Regions from separate parts of the Homo sapiens genome. Here region 1 is linked to region 2. Evidence: fine-mapped expression QTL. A gene starts in region 2. The other region holds a variant in brackets. All regions are shown on one strand. Distances are between the middles of the regions. Region 1 overlaps MCF2L2 (MCF.2 cell line derived transforming sequence-like 2). Region 2 holds the start of B3GNT5 (UDP-GlcNAc:betaGal beta-1,3-N-acetylglucosaminyltransferase 5).

Evidence for each region. PIP is the estimated chance that this variant, and not a neighbour inherited with it, causes the effect.
Region 1: its variant is the best candidate, but not a certain one, in a credible set for the expression of B3GNT5 in whole blood (TOPMed, PIP 0.89).

Annotation. Positions count from the first base shown.
Region 1 is chr3:183,199,415-183,209,042 of GRCh38, forward strand. It overlaps MCF2L2 (MCF.2 cell line derived transforming sequence-like 2), which reads right to left. Exons shown (of 30, transcript NM_015078.4): 23 at 8,194-8,409; 24 at 6,708-6,800; 25 at 6,462-6,540. Among named protein-coding and RNA genes, the nearest start is that of LAMP3, 41 kb to the left of the region's middle. The variant C/A (reference allele first, on the strand shown) is at 5,335.
Region 2 is chr3:183,248,400-183,258,027 of GRCh38, forward strand. B3GNT5 (UDP-GlcNAc:betaGal beta-1,3-N-acetylglucosaminyltransferase 5) reads left to right here and starts at 4,854. Exons shown (of 2, transcript NM_032047.5): 1 at 4,854-5,073. The region is part of intron 15 of MCF2L2 (MCF.2 cell line derived transforming sequence-like 2); the gene reads right to left. LOC124906310 (a long non-coding RNA gene) reads left to right here and starts at 818. Exons shown (of 3, transcript XR_007096189.1): 1 at 818-1,171; 2 at 2,385-2,466; 3 at 4,136-4,156.

The DNA of each region.
Region 1 (9,628 bases), 49 kb before region 2:
CCCACCAAATATCCCTGCAAACAAAGTGAAAGGATAAAGCCTGCTTAAAGATGATTTGTAATTGTTGAAAGGAGTACAGTGTGTGACATCAGTGAAAATGGTGGAGAAAAAACCCGTCCCCAAATTCTCTTCTTTGTGAAAGCATGGAAAAAACTGGCCAAAAATGGTTAGAAAATTTATTTTCAGAATATCGAAATTTTTTTTTCCTTTTTTTTTTTTTTATTATACTTTAAGTTCTAGGGTACGTGTGCACAACATGCAGGTTTGTTACATATGTATACATGTGCCATGTTGGTGTGCTGCACCCATTAACTCATCATTTGCATTATGTATATCCCCTAATGCTATCTATCCCTTCCCCCTCCCCCCACCCCACCACAGGCCCTGGTGTGTGATGTTCCCTACCCTGTGACCAAGTGTTCTCATTGTTCAGTTCCCACCTATGAGTGAGAACACACGGTGTTTGGTTTTCTGTCCTTGCGATAGTTTGCTCAGAATGATGGTTTCCAGCTTCACCATGTCCCTACAAAGGACATGAACTCATTGTTTTTTATGGCTGCATAGTATTCCATGGTGTATATGTGCCACATTTTCTTAATCCAGTCTATCATTGATGGACATTTGGGTTGGTTCCAAGTCTTTGCTATTGTGAATAGTGCTGCAATAAACATACGTGTGCATGTATCTTTATAGCAGCATGATTTATAATCCTTTGGGTATATACCCAGTAATGGGATGGCTGGGTCAAACGATATTTGTAGTTCTAGATCTTTGAGGAATCGCCACACTGTCTTCCACAATGGTTGAACTAATTTACAGTCCCACCAACAGTGTAAAAGTGTTCCTATTTCTCCACATCCTCTCCAGCACCTGTTGTTTCCTGACTTTTTAAAGATTGCCTTTCTAACTGGTGTGAGATGTTATCTCATTGTGGTTTTGATTTGCATTTCTCTGATGGCCAGTGATGATGAGCATTTTTTCATGTGTCTGTTGGCTGCATAAATGTCTTCTTTTGAGAAGTGACCGTTCATATCTTTTGCCCACTTTTTGATGGGGTTGATTTTTTTCTTGTAAATTTGTTTAAGTTCTTTGTAGATTCTGGATATTAGCCCTTTGTCAGATGGGTAGATTGTAAACATTTTCTCCCATTCTGTAAGTTGCCTGTTCACTCTGATGGTAGTTTCTTTTGCTGCGCAGAAACTCTTTAGTTTAATTAGATCCCACTTGTCAATTTTGGCTTTTGTTGCCATTGCTTTTGGTGTTTTAGTCATGAAGTCCTTGCCCATGCCTATGGCCTGAATGGTATTGCCTAGGTTTTCTTCTAGGGTTTTTATGGTTTTAGGTCTAACATTTAAGTCTTTAATCCATCTTGAATTCATTTTTGTATAAGGTGTAAGGAAGGGATCCAGTTTCAGCTTTCTACATATGGCTAGCCAGTTTTCCCAGCACTATTTATTAAATAGGGAATCCTTTCCCTATTTCTTGTTTTTGTCAGGTTTGTCAAAGATCAGATGGTTGTAGATGTATGATATTATTTCTGAGGGCTCTGTTCTGTTCCATTGGTCTATATCTCTGTTTTTGGTACCAGTACCATGCTGTTTTGATTACTGTAGCCTTGTAGTATAGTTTGAAGTCAGGTAGCGTGATGCCTCCAGCTTTGTTCTTTTGGCTTAGGATTATCTTGACAATGCAAGCTCTTTTTTGGTTCCATATGAACTTTAAAGTAGTTTTTTTCCAATTCTGTGAAGAAAGTCATTGGTAGCTTGATGGGGATGGCATTGAATCTATAAATTACCTTGGGCAGTATGGCCATTTTCACGATATTGATTCTTCCTATCCATGAGCATGGAATGTTCTTCCATTGGTTTGTGTCCTCTTTTATTTTGTTGAGCAGTGGTTTGTAGTTCTCCTTGAAGAGGTCCTTCACATCCCTTGTAAGTTGGATTCCTAGGTATTTTATTCTCTTTGAAGCAATTGTGAATGGGAGTTCACTCATGATTTGGCTCTCTGTTTGTCTGTTATTGGTGTATAGGAATGCTTGTAATTTTTGCACATTGATTTTGTATACTGAGACTTTGCTGAAGTTGCTTATCAGCTTAAGGAGATTTTGGGCTGAGACGATGGGGTTTTCTAAATATACAATCATGTCATCTGCAATTTGACAATTTGACTTTCTCTTTTCCTAATTCAATACCCTTTATTTCTTTCTCCTGCCTGATTGCCCTGGCCAGAACTTCCAACACTATGTTGAGTAGGAGTGGTGAGAGAGGGCATCCCTGTCTTCTGCCAGGTTTCAAAGGGAATACTTCCAGTTTTTGCCCATTCAGTATGATATTGGCTGTGGGTTTGTCATAAATAGTTCTCATTATTTTGAGATACGTCCCATCAATACCTAGTTTATTGAGAGTTTTTAGCATGAAGGGCTGTTGAATTTTGTTGAAGACCTTTACTGCATCTATTGAGATAATCATGTGGTTTTTGTCTTCGGAGAACACTGGAAATTAAATGATGGCTTGCAGCAATCTGGAGAGCATTTATTCAAGGAAAATGGCTGTGTCTCAGTATGACTAATGAGCTTTTTAACTTGCCCTATTTCTATCCTCCCCTTCCTTGGTGGTAGCCTTAGAAATGAACAGCCTGCAATGATAGTGAAAATCAGCAGTCTGGCAGCCATGGGAGGGGCAGAACAGGAATGGGGGAACTATGGAGCCTCATTCTTAGAGAATTATCATTATTTGATCTGTCCACGGGTTTCTAGGAATACCTGACCTGCAAGTCTGTCTTTATTAGGCCTGACTCAGAACTTGCCCAATGTGAAAAGTCTTTTCCCCAAAGGCCTTTGTAGAAAATGATTACAGGCAATTGTTTAACTTCTTGGTTGCTCGAGGTATTGGCTAACAGTGGGGCAAACATGGGCTAATCAGAAGGTTTAAAATGAAATGCTCAGGAATAAGATGCTCATAGAGGGTTGTAAAGGCTCCAAAATATTTATGAGACTCTAGAAGACCATGCACACATTTCCTGTGAACATGTTCAGGACAGATCTGCGAAGGCCCCACGATCTTACCTCTGGCTGATCTTGATGATCTGCACAAACAGAAAGTGAAAGCTAGGCTAGAACTGTCAAGTGCCAGGCTGAGTGTGAAGGTGTGCCCTAATGTGCACACAGAGCCCCTTGGCAAAGACTAGAAGACTTACTGCTTTCAGGTGTTTAAAGAAATCTCTGTCATGTCATTAGTATTTAGATCACTAAGCTAACTGAACAGAGGCTTCAATGGCTGCACATAAATACAGACTTCACAGAATTAGTTTAGAAAAGTCACTATAACAAACAACAATAAACAGCAACACCAACAAACAGTAGAGGTGGGAAGGTCCAATTTCCAGAGTTGCTACATTATGTTATTTAAAATGTGCAATTTTAACAGAAAATAATGAGACATGTAAAGAAATAAGAAAATGCAGTCCATACCCAGGGAAAAAGAAAAACCAGTCAATACAAACTGTTCCTAGGCCAGGTGCAGTGGCTCATGCCTGTAATCCCAGCACTTTGGGAGGCCAAGGCAGGCAGATCACCAGAGGTCAGGAGTTTGAGACCAGCCTGACCAACATGTTGAAACCCCATCTCTACTAAAAGAAAAATACAAATTTAGCCAGGCATGGTGGCGTGCACCTGTAATCCCAGCTACTCGGGAGGCTGAGGCAGAAGAATTGCTTGAACCCAGGAGGCGGAGGTTGCAGTGAGCTGAGATCATGCCATTGCACTCCAGCCTGGGCTACAGAGCAAGACTCTGTCTCAAAAAAGAAAAAAAAAGAAAAAAGAAAAAACTGTTCCTGAGGAAGCCAAGATACTGACTTTACTAGACCAATACTTTAACTATTTTTACATGTTCAAAAAGTTAAAGGAAATCATATATAAAGACTAAAGGAAAGCACAAGAACAAATCCTCATTAAATAGAAAATATAAAGATTTGTTTTAAAGGACGAAACAGAAATTCTAGATTTCAAAAGTATAATAATTGAATGAGAAATTCACTAGAGTGGCTGGCTCAATAGCAGATCTGAGCAGGCAGAAGAAAGAATTAGAGAACTCAGAAATAGGTCAATTGAATCTATCCAGTCTGAGGAAGAGAAAGAAAGAGGAATGAAGGAAAAATGAATAGAGCCTCAGAGACTGTGAGATACCTTCAAGCACGCTAATGACGCATAATGGCAGTCTCAGAAGGAGAGAGGGATAAATGGGCTAAAATAATATTTAAAGAAGCAATGGCTGAACATTTCCCAAATCTGATGAAAACATTAATCTATACCTTCAAGAAAGTCTATAAACTCCAAGAAATATAAATTCAAAGAGATCAAGATCCACACCTAGAGATAACATAATCAAACTGTCAACAAAGACAATGAAATTATCTTGAAAGCAGCAAGCACATAGAAGGACTCTTCAATAAGATTAACAGCTGATTTCTATCAGAAATCACAGAGTTGAGAAGGCAATGGGATGACATATTCAAAGTGCTTAAAGAAAAAGAGGGTCAACAAGGAATTCTATACCTAAAGCCAATTTATCTTCAACAAAGATGCCAAGACCATTCAAAGTGGGGAAAGAATAGTCTTTTCAATCAATGGTTCTAGGACAATGGATATCCACATGTAAAAAAAGGAACTTGGGCCCCTAATTCACATCATATACAAAAATTAACTCGGAATGAGTCAAAGGCTTAACTGTAAGAGTTAAAACTATAAACTCTTTGCAAAGAACACTATCAAGAGAGTAAAAAGACAATGCACAGTATGGGAAAAAATACTTGCAAATAATATATCTGATAAAAGTCCAGTATCCAGAATATATAAATAACTCTTACAATTCAACCATAAAATGACAAGCCAATTAAAAAACATACAAATGAGTTAACTGACATTTCTACAAAGAAGATATACCAATGGCCAATATGCATGTTAAAAGATGCTCAACATCACTAGCCATGAGGGAAATGTAAATCAAAATCACAATGAGATACTAGTACATGCCCACTAGGATGGCAATGATAATAATAATAATAATAATAATGTTATTATAATGAACAATACAAGTGTTAGTAAGGAAATGGAGAAAATTGAACCCAACTATTATATTGCTGGTGTGAATGTGAAATGGTGGTACTGTTTTGAAAGATGATTTGGAAGTTCCTCAGAAAGTTAACAAAAGTTACCATATGGTCTGGCAATTCTACATATATACACCAAAGAAAACTGGAAATAAAGATTCATACAAAAATCTGTACAAAAATATCTACAGCAGCTTTACTTACAGTATCCAAAAAGGGGAAAAA[C/A]CCCAAATCTTCATCAACTAATGAATGGATAAACAAAGATGGTATATCCATACAATGGACTGTTACTCAGCCATAAAAAGGTATGAAGTACTGATAGATACTACAACATAAATGAAACTTAAAAAAATACGCAAAGTGAAAGAAGCTAGACAGAAAGGGCCATATATGTGATGTGTAGAGAAAACATCCAATAGAGACAGGAAATACATTAGTGATTGCCAGGGGCTGGGTAAAGGTGAGAGATGGAGAATGATTGCTAATTGGTACAGAATTTTTTTGTTGGGAGAGTTATGAAAATATTTTGGAAGTATAATTAGAATTAGGCTGTTAAATACTTTAAAACAAAAAACAGCTGGGCGCAGTGGCTCACACCTGTAATCCCAGCACTTTGGGAGGCCGAGGCAGGCAGATCATAAGGTCAGGAGATCAAGACCATCCTGCCCAACATGGTGACACCCTGTCTCTACTACAAACACACAAATTAGCCAGGCGTGTTGGCGCGCCTGTAGTCCCAGCTATTCGGGAGGCTGAGGCAGGAGAATCACTTGAACCTGGGAGGCAGAGGTTGCAGTGAGCCCAGATGGTGCCACTGCACTCCAGCCTGGGCGACAAGAGCAAAAACTCCATCTCAAAACAAAACAAAACAAAAAACAAAAGTAAGAAGTAAAAAAATAGAATTAGACTGGGGATGGTTATTGAGCCTTGTGAATAATCTAAAACCCACTGAATTGTATATTTTAGACAGTGAATTTGATGGCATGTTAATTATATCTTGATGTTTTAAAAAAAGTAGTACAGTGTCTGAAAGGTAGCATTGGCCATTTGAATCTCTGTTAACATTTTCTTGGGTGGCCATCAGATTTTTGATTAAAGGTGACCTTGGCAATTAAGTGGTGGGGGGAACACAACCAAAAGGGACAAACCAACACAACCACACACAATCACACAACCCCTCCACCTCCACCACAGTGGAAATCAAGCATAGGTGCTTCCAGGGACTGTGAAAATGTGGCCACAGTTGTTTTCCCAGCAAACCATTTTCTTTCACAATATCCCCAATTTGCACATCCCCCACTGAGCTGAAATCAGTATAACTCGACAGACGAAAGTCAGCAGGGGTAACCTACCTTTGATATTATTTTGTTGTTCCATCAATAATTTACTTATTTCTGAAAACCAACAGTCTCTGATTTCTTTTGAAGCTGCCTGCAATCACACATAAGAAAACACTATAAGACTACCATGAGTATTAATTGCAGAGTTTTTATTCTCCCAGTGACCGTTAGACTAATGAGATAGAAAACACTTGTCAAGTCATGGGAACACAATAAGGAAAGAGTAGAGGAGACCCATGGGGAAGGCATGAGCGTTACCTGCAGGATGTATTTCTCAAGTCCATTTCGACTGGCAATCTCAAACTTTCTATGGCTCCCCCTTCCAAGCTGGCGAATTGAAAGTGTCATCAGCTATTATAAAGAGGGAAGAGAAATGTTCTATACCATCGTTTTCTGATTTTAAAATAGTCCCTGTCAATCACTCTAATCCTTTCTATCCTTGACAGCTCTCTTCTTTCATCTTCCTTTCAAGTTTTTGCTTTCCTCTCTTAATGACTCCAAGACAGCATAAAACACAATCTGGTACAGTGTCTTCTGTCTCATCTGTTTCAGAAGGTAACACAGACTGTTAACTTTCTACTGTATCTTTATGCAGGAGGCGCTGCAGCCCTCAACCTTTCAGTGAAGAGATCATTTCTCCTTCAACGTGTATTTTACAACTTTCTACGTAATAGTAACTGAATAAGGATCTATTCAGAAACATAAATAACAAGGCCAGGTATGGTGGCTCATGCCTCTGTAATCAGTCCTGTAATTCCAGCACTTTGGGAGGCCTAGGTGGGCGGATCACCTGAGGTCAGGAGTTCGAGACCAGCCTGACCAACATGGTGAAACCCTGTCTCTACTAAAAATACAAAATTAGCTGGGCATGCTGGTGCGTGCCTGTAATCCCAGCTACCTGGGAGGCTGAGGCAGAATTGCTTGAACCCGGGAGGTGGAGGTTGCAGTTAGCCAAGATCATGCCATTGCACTCCAGCCTGGGCAACAAGAGCAAAACTCTGTCGAAAGAAAAGAAAGAAAGAAAGACAAGAAAGAAAGACAGAAAGAAAGAAAGGAAGGAAGGAAGGAAGGAAGGAAGGAAGGAAGGAAGGAAGGAAGGAAGGAAGGAAGGGAGGGAGGGAGGGAGGAAGGAAGGGAGGGAGGAAGGAAGGAAGGAAGGGGAGAAAGAAAACAAAGGCTACTATGAACAAATTAACAGCTTTAATCACAACAGCATAAATATATATGGGTGTGGCTCCTGTATGTGGGTGTGTGTGTTTCATAGCCTGAGAGCTAACTGGCTATGAAACAGTTTCTAAACAGGTGAGAAAACAATGCTTGGTGTGGGCCTGGGTGCCTTAGACCCCAAGGTCAGGACAATGCCTGCACTTAGACACAAAGATACACCGTTGAGAAGGACAAGTCTAAGATGAAATCCAGCCCATGTTCTCATCACTAAGTCTTTCAACTCTCTTTTACCTCTTTGCCTGGAAGAAAGAGGGTACTTTTACTAATTAGTTTGTCCAGACTGGCTGCCATATAGTCTTTTTTCTCTAGTACAAAGGCACTCCTATGCCAGCCCTGGCCCATAAGCTCTGACCCTGGAGTCAGACAGACCCGGCTATGGATTCTAGCCCTGTGGTGTGGTATTTGGCAAGTTAACTTCACCTCTCTACACTGCAGCTTCCTCATCTGTAAAATAAGGAAAACGATCTCTCTCTTTTCTGCATAGGGCGACTCCCAGATGCAATAGGACTCCCTTTACCTTCATGGTCTTCTTGAAGCTGTAATGAGGAGATAATCCCTGGTCCCCAGGCTCCATTCGTATCTTACAGAACACTATTCCCCTTTCAAATAGGTAGATTTGCCTCTGGCTGGGTTTAAATCGAATCAAATCCTTCATTTTATAACGATCCTTGTGAATTGTCCAGACGCTGAAAGGGCCGTGCAGCAACAGCTTGCCTAGTTTTCCAATATCGTCCTTTTGGAAACACACATACAGGAAAAGAAGCTGTAAAATTACTTGACAGAGAAAGAAGCCTTTGTGGCCTGTTTTCAAATTTTATAAAGCATGCTTCTTTGAGGTTTACAATTCTAAAAGTGCTATTCAGGCTGGTCTGTCACTAAATCAAAACGACAATTTTTTGAGCTTCACTGAGCGTGGTGCCATTTAGTTATATAAGGAAATCAATTCAGCTATGAAAGGTAATGCTATACATAAAGAATGTTAGAAATGCTTGAGCTAGAGATACGGGGACTGTGATATTTTTGACTCAATTTTAACTAGCAGAATTCAATTTCCTCTGTGCTATGTTTGATACATGACAGTCTCCTTCAAAGGGACAAGAAATTAACATTTCAATTATGTCCAGTAGAGATAGAATTTTGGCTGCATTGCGGACCCATGAGCATCTGTGTGTTCCATCTGCATCCTAACTTCTGCTTCAGGTATATGAGGACCTGAGAAAATGAAGCTTGTTCTGAAAAGAGAAAGTTTACTGTGATCTAATCTTCACAACATTGTAATGGAAATAGTAACTGCATTCAACTCTGAGTTTTTCAGAGTGAGTCAACAGTGCCAAGATAATACCAAATGACAGATTTTTAAGAAGTCTGTTTGACTCTAGGCATAAACTGTGATGCCCCTGTCTCCACCAGCAAGGCTGCCTTTGTCATATGTCTGGTTGAAAGTCCAAATGAGATGACCCTGCCTTCTCTGAGCTCTCTTCAAAAGACAGTGGACCAAGATGAGCTGGGAGCGAGGCATTTTATCTGGTATTTTTCAAAACTTCGATTGCTTAAAGCAGATAAGAATTCATTTCCCTGAATAAAAACACCAAAAGGAACAAATTATTTGAAGGGGACCAAGACAAAGAAATCTCCCTAAGTGACCTCTAGCTGAGATCAATCCCTATGATTTCTGAGTTAATACTGGAAATATGTACTTCATTCATAATTGATTGGGCATTTTTATAATTTATTGTTTATATGTTGGGCAAACTCTAGGTATCTTTTTTAAAAAGGAATTGACTTTACTTCTGAAACATTAAAAGAAAAACTTCAAGAGCAATAAACTCTAGTCATTTCTATGGTGTCTATGGCGTTATTTCCTATGTTAATTTTCTATTTTCTTCTTTGGAAAATTTACATATGTAGACTGTGGTGAATAAAACCCTCAAACTCCCAGCCACGAGGCCTTC
Region 2 (9,628 bases):
AAAGAGTACTCAATGTAAACCCTAGGAAGACTTTTAACTGCCTTTTGGAAATTGGTTGAGTGGGATTTGAACCGTGTACTCTCTGTAAAGCAGGAAATTATCACTTAGTAATTACTAAGTATTTAAAAATGGGAAATAGAAAATTACATTTCAGACCTGGTGCAGTGGCTCATACCTGTAATCCTAACACTTTGGCAGGTGGAGGCAGGTGGATCGCTTGAGCCCAGGAGTTCAAGACCAGCCTGGGCAACATAGTGAGCAACTCCATTTCTACTAAAAATAAAAAAAATTATTTGGGCGTGATGGGGTGCACCTGTAGTCCCCACTACTCAGGAGGCTGAGACAGGAAGATTGCTTGAGCCTAGAAGGTCAAGCCTGAGTGAGCAGTGACCGGCCATTGTATTCCAGCCTGAGCAACACAGCGAGACCCTGTCTCAAAAAAAATGTATATTTTTAAAAAAAGAAAATTACATTTTAGTTGTTCCATAAATATCAGTACAACCAAACCTAAGTGCAAAATTCCCAACACAAATGATCGCCTCTGGGCCAGCCATGTAGCCCCCATCTTGCTGTCAATAATCATTTCCAGGGGCTGTAATTGTCTTCCTTCCCCCTGTACCACCCCATCACAGGACACAAATTGTTTTGCTTAGTTTAGATAGCTGTGACTAAACTAAGTGCCAATTGTCTTTTAAAATATGTGTTAATCAGCACTCAAGATTGTTCCTACAAAAATGTCACTCCCTCACTCAATTTGCATGTGCCCTCCTGAGTAGGAGAGAAAGAGCTGAGTTAGAGGCAGCCCTCTGGGACCTGCACAGAACCCTGTATGCTTCCGGGAGTGTGGAGTGTGTGTCTGATCTGCTGCTGGGAAAAGGAGAAGAAATGCTGAGACACTCACTGCCAGGGGCTGGTATCAGGCCATTTTCACAGGGGCTGTTGGAGGGTTGACAGCACAGCTCTACTGGACCAGGGAGGGTCCCAGCCAGCAGGGCCTGCCCCTCCGAAACTGTCCCTGTCCCTGTCCCTGAGAGGCCCCACTGAGTGTCAGATGGCACATAAGAGATTTCCTTATGCGTTGGTGTGAAGGAGATGATCAGTTCCAGGAGGCCCCTCCCCCATGCAGAAGAGAAGAAAATGGAAGAAACCGGGTTCTCAGAGTGGCCTGCGGGTGAGTGCCGCCTTGTGCTGTCAGTTCCCTTCACCTTCCAGTTCTGGGTGTACCTAGTGTGGTTTCATCAAACTGCTGAGGCCCTGGAATTGAGGGAGGATGCTGAAGGGTGCCAGGCCATAGAAGCAGTAGCAGGAGCTGCAGCAAAGAGCTAGTGTGTCTCCAGCGTCAGCTTTTGGGCCTTGGTGGCATCAAAGGAGACGTACACAGGGCCACTGTACTACGGATGGGATTCTTGGAACAAAAGTTTGAATAATTGATGAGTGTGGAAGTGCTATGCAAAAATTCAATTCAACCTGCAGTTACCAGGCATTCATTCTGTGACAGGCATTATTGTGAGGGTGGCAAGGAGACGGGGAGTCTCTGAGAGACTCAGAGAAGAGCAGGGCATGGTGTCCACCCACAAGAGATCTGAAGACTTTCAAAGTAGTTGGGAAAACAGACATACAACTTTTTTCCCCTCCCCACAGCTAGTTGAGGCAAAAGACATATAACTTATACAGTGACAAAATACTACTGACTGTTACTGACACATAACAGCCTGGGCTGGGTCACTGGTGAGAAAAAGGAGGATTCTTGCTTTTGGGGCATTCAAGTCCTGTCCATTAACCATTTCCCAATCCCATATTTATACATCCCATTTTAGACATATTAAGCTGAAGATTGATGTGACATACCCAAAGACACTTAAGGTTGAAGCTGAGAATCTGGGCTAGAAATATAAATCAGGATGGGCTGGGAGCGGTGGTTCACGCCTGTAGTCCCAGCACTTTGGGAGGCCGAGGCGGGCGGATCACTTGAAGTCAGGAGTTCAAGACCTGCCTGGCCAACATGGTGAAACCCCATCTCCACCAAAAATATAAAAAATTAGCCAGGTGTGGTGGTGCATGACTGTAATCCCAGCTACTCGGGAGGCTGAGGCAGGAGAGTCACTTGAACCCGGGAGGCAGAGGTTACAGTGAAAGGAGATCGTGCCACTGCACTCCAGCCTGGGTGACAGAGCGATACTTCGTTTCAAAAAAAGAAAAAAAAAAAAAAGAAAGAAATGTAAGTCAAGATTAAAGACAATGGGTGAGATCAGCAAGGAGCATGTGTGCGGAGAAGAGAACACCAAGGAAGGCTGCGTGTGGTGGGAGGTGGCCGGGGGGCAGAGAAAGAGGCGGCGGAGCCAAGGAGATAGGGCATCGTCTGAATGGTGATGCTGTATCAACAGATGTGAAATTCCCAGAGGTGTGAAACACAGCAGATCCTTTACAGCACGATGACAGGACACAGCATGAGCCTACCTCTGCCAGGTGAGAGGAGCTTTCTGCAACCTGTGATGGGCTCAAGGATGCTGACCATTCATCCGCCCATTGGGATAGCCCAGGCTCTGAGCTCAGCACTCCACCCGTCACTGCGATTGCACTAATCCTCACCCACCCTTGCAGGCAGGTATTACTGTGGGCACAGAGAAGTTTGCTAACTTGCCAGAGATCCTGTGTAGGAAGCCAGGTCAGGAAACAACCAGAGTCTCTCTAACAGCCCAGGCCTTGAATGAACACCGGCCTGCTTCAGAATACATGGCCCGTGATGTGTTTGAATTCACAGATTCACTGGACAGGTTCCCTATAGGGCCTGTGAGGAAATCTGGTCTAACAGAATCCAGAAAGACAAATTTCGCTAAACAGGTCAAGCCTGATACTGCTGCTACACTTCAGCTGTGTTAAGCCACTCGGTTATCAGACCTGCTTCTCCTTTCATGATTTTAGTAACACAGGCCTCTTCCTTGGGCCCCTGTTGCTCCCACCATCTCCCAGGTTCTCTTGTACTCAGGGTTTAGTCTCCCCTCCCCACTACTAATGATGCATGTGCCTTACTCTCTGATCATCTCTCCTAAATCTGCTACTCCTCTGCTCTTTCTGTGCCTTATCTATCCCTGCCGAGTCTAACATGCAGATTTTGGTCATTCCAAAGTCATGTATAGATCTAATCACAGGGCTCTCTGCTTACCAGCTGCTACTTGGATAAGGAAAGCATGCCAACACGGTCCTCCTTCTTCATGCTGGCCAAGTCAGCATCATTATTATTACCTAAGTTTATTTCTAACACATCTCAATATCTTCATGCACTCCCTCTTGATAAAAGTAACTGAGCATAGCACCATCAATACCATCAAATCTGTCATTCTCTTCCCCTCTCTCTGGGTGGGACAGGAAGCCAGGCTGCTCTAGGAAATCTTCCCTAACAAGCAAAGGGGACTTGCCTGTCCTCTCGCATGTGTGATCTGAGCTTGTGTGGATCCCAGAGTGGGCATTCTGGACTACTTGACCTTGCCTATCTCTCCTTCACACCCTCTCATCTCTCCCTCCTACCACCAAAAAACTTGCATCGTATTTCCAATCTCCAGACATACTTTTGAAACCATTTATCTATCTGGTGTGTTTATCTGTATCTAGTATGATGTGAATATGTGATTTGTATGTGTGTCTACCACTGTTTTGGTCAGTTTGTATTTCTCGTGGGTACAGTTCTATGTGCTCATGTATGTGGAACATATGTATACTGACACATGGACCTAGCTCCAAATGATCTGAAAGGAATATAATTGTAATTGAATATTTGCACAGATATACAACATACACATGTGATGGCTGGGGGAAATGCATGTGGGATTTCAGTCAGCATTTTATTAGAGAAGGTATGTCATTAGTGCTGTATTAACAATGAATCAGCTTATTTGTGGGTCACTGTCAATGACTCCTTTGCAAATCACACATGTAAATATTTCTGTCTGTGGTCTGATGAACATGCAGTGCCACAGTCTGGGAGATGCTGAGCCATGCCCTGTGTAGGCAGCATATGAAAAGAACTGCATGATTTAAAAGATGCTGACCAGCTTAAGGAAAGCAATTTAAAAACTTCCTAAAAATCTAGTTTGAATGAACAACAGTTTTCATTTTGTGTGTGTGTTTTTTCTTTTAGAGATGGGGTCTTGCTATGTTGGCCACGCTGGTCTCTAACTCCTGGGATCAAGCAATCCTCCTGCGGCTCAGCCTCCCAAAGTGATGGGATTACAGGTGTGAGCCACCGTGTCTGCTGGCCCCACTGTTTTAAACCCTGATTCGACAATCATACATTTAACTCATTACCTGTCTTGTTCCTTTTACGACAAACTCAAAGCTTTTATTTTACTAAAGTATTTGGGTTAATCTTTTGCTTTTCTGTCATGTTCTGAAATATGTACAATAACAGAATCGCTCAAAATATTATCTCCGTTAAATGTTTTGTGGCTTTAGGGAGAGGTCTAACAACATGCGGGAAACAAGAAATCAAGCGCATCCAGGATTCATTTATAATCTCTCTCGTTGAGTAGAAGTCCGCATCTCTCGATATTGTCTGGTTACCTGCATGAAGTATTCTAAAGGAGGAAAATAGCTCAAAGAGGACATTCATGTGCACTCTGGCTTCCAGTTGGCCATTTGAGTAAGTGATCGCAATTAACTGACGAGCGGCAGGGAAACACTTCCTGGAATTCTCATCTACAGACAAGAACAAACTGGGGCGGGGCCCATCACCTTCACCTACGCGCCGGGAGGGTGGCGGCTGGCGGGCGGGGCCGGGCTCGGGCCGTGACGCCGAGAGTGCGGGGCGCGCGGCTGGGAGCCTCGCGCCCCCGCCCGGGCCCGCCCCCATCCCGCCCGCATACAGCCCGCATCCCGCCGGGGAAGCGAGCCCAGTCCAGCGCTGCCCGTCCAGTCCTCGCCCAAGATTTAAAGCCCGCAAGTTTTGTTCTTGAGACCAGCGACTTTAGCTCCGATGCGGGAAGGAAAGCCGACCTCCGATTTGGACATTTAAAGAGCTGGGCTTGAACTTCGTGAGTTTCGCTCTAAACTGCCCTTGAAATGAAGCTGGACTTGGAGGTAAAGTCACTGGGAAGCTGGCCTGGGGCGGGGTTTCCCCCTCTTCTCGTATTTTAGAAACGGACAGCGGCAGTGCAGCCCTAGTTTGCTGTAAGTTTCCTTACTTTGTTACTGAGGCCCCCAGAGCTCCACGCATAAGTGGTGTGACCAGAAACCTTTTAACAAGACCCGCCTGAGCCTGCGTTAGAGCTCCCGCTCGGAAAGTAAAAGACCATCCTAATCCGCGGCGCTGCGGAACCGGTGTCCCGTGTGGGAGGAACCGCGGCGTTCCCTGGGCGTAGGGCCCGCGAGGCCAGCACAGTCCGCCTCTTGGCGGAGCGCCCTGGGCCGGTGGTTCCGCGCGGAGTTAGTCTGTGGTCAGTTACGTGGTGAAAACACGGCTGTGCCGCGGCCGCATCTTTCCGCGGCCGAGGCCTCTCTGGGTGGGAGTGTTGGCTTCCTTTCCGGATCGCTAAATGGGGAAAGTTCTGGCCGCTCGGCGGGATACGTCTCCAGGCCACGGATGGTTCGTTCTCCGTGCCGCGGCCCCGAGCTGGGCTCCCTGGGTCTCCAGCGCGGGCTCCCGGCATTGGGGGCTGCGGGCCGGCCCCTCCGCCCCGCCCCCGCCCCGCCGCGCCTCCTCGGCCGAGCGGCTCGCGGTCTCCGGCGCGGGAGGCTCCGAGTCTGCCCACTCCGGGCCGAGCGAGGTCTCTGGAGGAGAAGAGTGGCGAGGAGGTGAGGGCACGCCGGCCCTCGCCCGGCGGGTGGCGCCAGGACTTCAGGTGGGAACGCGCGCTTGGGCCGGGGGCGCGTGGCTGGCGTGGACACCGGATCGGGGCCCGCCGCCCTGGCCCGGACCGCGCACGGCCCAGCGCCGGGAAGTCGGGAAGCCGGGGAGGCCTCTCCCACCGCGGGCCCCGGCAGCCCGCCCTCTGAAAGCGCGGCGGAGAAGGAGGCTCGTCCCCTCCCCGGAACGCCTTTGTTCCCTCCGGCCTGCCCGCGCGGGTGGCCAGCGGCTGGGACCCAGGCCGGGCCGCCGCCCAGGTGCGGCAGGTAGGCTCGGGGGCCGGGCAGCTCCGGTTGGGGCGGCTTCCCGGGGCCTGCGGGTCCCCGTCCCTGAGGAGCTCCGGCTCCTCGGTGGCGGGACAGGCCCGTGCGCGGGAGCCGCGAGGCGAACGCCGCGCCCACCAATTCGGTTGCCGGCCGGGGGCCCCAGGCTTGCGGCCACCCGCCTCCGGCTGGAGGGCTGAATTCGAGTCGAAAGCCCGTGTCGGGCTGGAAAGAAGAAACCGCCAACCTGAGAACGCTTTCGGCGAGTTACTGGCGGGGGAAATGGGGACAGGGAAGTGGGCAGGCGGGGAGACTGCAGCCGCAGATCTCCCTGGCGGGGAGGTCGTGGCCACTCTTTCCTTTGACTCTGCCTCATTTCATTTTGAATCCTGATGTGACAGAGGCAATTGCTTGCTTGGATACCATATAGGTAAAAGTAACAGTTTTCAACTCGACTCTTGACTACACCCTGTACATTCTTGGCCGGTGTTGGTTTTCTTAGGTTATGGATCATGTTAAAGGTACACCGATGTGGTAACCGCACAGTGGCCGATGGTGGCCTGAGGCTCATATTTATGGTAATTATCTGATGAAAGTACATCCATCAGAATTGGATTTGTGCGTCTGTGCCTTTATTTTGGGAAACCTTGCCTGTTCCCTGTGGGGGATGGGAGAGGAATGTGAAAAGCCGAAGTTGACCCAGAAAAGGATGATTGAAGGTAGTTGTATTAAGTGGTGGCACCGAAATGATTCCACCCTGAACTTTCTGAAAGGGTGATTAGTGATCAGCAGCAGACGTTATAACTTTCTCAAAATAAATTTATGGTAGATTTTCTATCTGGTCACAAGTGAGGAGGTGAAAGCTGCTTTTTGGGGCCAACTCTTTGCTTTTAAAGCAAGCTAAACGCAATACCAGAAAGGTTTCCATTCTGTACTTAACCTGCTTGTCCTTCTCACTCTTCCTTATCCTCCCGCACACGCTCTGAGCATTGACTGAGCACTCTGAGGAGGAGGCTGACTCAGGCTGACCCTTCCCGGCCCTGCAAGGCTCTAAGGTAGAACCAGTGTTATCACAGGAAAGGCCCAAGCCAAAGCTCAGAGCAGCTGTTCCTGAGAAAGTGGGAGATGAGGATGAGTAGGAGGTAGAGATGCTTATAACTGCTCTGCCCAGAGAAAACTCAGAAGGTGCAGAAGAGTTTTCAAAATAAAGTGCAGGCCCCATCAAGTAAAAAATGAAACATTGTATTTCATTAAAATGGTGATCAGTTTTCTCTTTTCATAAAAGACATTCAAATGGTGAGATTGTAAAAAAAAAAAAAAAGAAAAAGAAAACTTTCTAATTCTCAAAAATAGAACAGCTTGAATAATAACTCATGGGTTTTGAAATGGGTCATCTTTTAAAATGGGTCACTTTGGCTAGAATCATTGCACTTGGTGACTTTCACATTGTAAAGGGTCCAGTTCTTTCTGAGGCCCAATTGCACTAGAATCTGCATTTCAGAACACAGGAGGTATCAGGAAGAAACTGGGAGAAATTCAGAGGGAAATTGTCTCTTCTCAGAGTAACAAAATGTCCCCTATTCAGGGGGAATTTTATATATGCTGAAGTAAATAGATCTCAGCTTTGAATTTTTATAATACATTATGCCTTTTCTGAAATATTTCCATAGCCATTATTTTAATGCATTGTTAGAATAACCTTGTAAGGAGAGGAATTCATTGTATCTGTGTTCCAGAAACTGAGGCACAGTAAATTACAAGAGCTCTGCCCTTTGATATCGAATCTCTGTGAGCGAAGATGTAACCAGAACAGTGTAAATCTAGAATTACTTTCCTTACGGTATGCAATATCTAATTATTATGTATTAGTTTACATATATATAGGGGATGTAAGAATCTTTATATTTAAAGGATAAGAAACTTGATCAGGTGAGATACAAGATTTGAATAAAAAAGCGATTTTTTAGAAACATTTTAATTCTACAAATTCAGTTGCTGGCTTTGATATGTAACTTATTCAGATTTCTCTTCCATAGAAGGCTTTAACACTAGAAGCCAGTTCTCTACAAAAGAGAATGTTCTACCAAGTGTGTAGGCAACAAAGCCCAAAAGTTCAAGTTCAAAATACTGTTCTACAGCCTAAGATCCACCTAATATTTCAGATTTGACTCTTTTGCTCCTTTCCTATAACTTCCTATAACTTTTTCATAGTGCTCTAAGCAAAGTAAGTTCAAGGATGGACTCACCTCAAGTTTCCTTCTCTTACTTTAGAGGACCATATAATCTTATACCTGTGTCATCCTAATTGAAATGTATTTTAAGTGCTTGTGGGAACAAGAATAACGGAAGACCGTTATTCCATTAATGGAATAATGGGGAACATGAGAAGGACCATATTCAGTCAATTAGGGATGATACTTCTGCCTCAACAGTATTTGCGATGTGTTAAATGGCCCTTAGCCATCAGATCAGTATTTTTAAAAACTCCTACCTAATTAATGTTTTTTGAGAAGAAGCATATTATGAGTATAGCTCAGTATTCTAAAAAGAAAAAAACCTGAAAAAAAAATCAGCCATCCATTAACTAACCCATCCTGGTAAAGCTACACAAACAGATTCTAGAGAAAGGAAATTTGCACAGATGGAACATCTAATCTGGACTGACATTGTCAACAAGTTATCTCAAATGATCCTGAGAAAACACTGGTACATGGTTTAGAGACAAGTCGAGCTCATGTGACTAGTAAATGGAGAGGCACAGTATACATCTACTTTTGTTGGCATTTAAACACTCTCGGCTTTTTTACTCTCTTTCACCACCATCAGGTCCAGATTCCAGCTTGCACTGGAATATTTATTGACCCTTTGATAGAAGAGCTACACCTGAAACATCTCTGAAGTCTTTTTAGCATCCTATCCTGCCCATGGCCTACTACACAGTATGTGATAAGTTAATGTTTGTTGAATTAGTTAAATATACGTATTAACCTACTTTCAGGGCTGCCCGCTGTAATGCCTAGAATAGGGCAGGCACTTAATAAATGGTAGTTAACTTAGACTAAATGTTGATCCACCAAGACAGAAACATGTTACATATACCTCTTGTTTTACACCATCTTCTACTTTTTGTACCTCTGTGTTATAAACCCTCTATCAAGTGTTGCTTCTAAAGACAATGTCCAGAATGGGACGTAGGAACTGCCACTGGGCAACAGGCAGACACTGGGTTATATCGTCATCCTGTTTCTGAATCCTGGTTTTTCTTATTATTATTCAACCACAGCTAAACTTTCTGATCTCCTTTTTTCCGTTTTTTCCCTTTACCCTAACTTCTAGCCAAACTAAGTGATTTGACATTTCCCCACTCAAGCCACAACTTTTTCTCTTATGTGCTTAAAAAAAATTCCTGCGTAGTCTCTCTTGGAATGTCTTATTCCTTGCTCCCTCCACTTCACCCTTTTTTTTTTTTTTTTTTTTTTTTTTTGAGACGGAGTCTCGCTCTGTTGCCCAGGCTGGAGTGCAATGG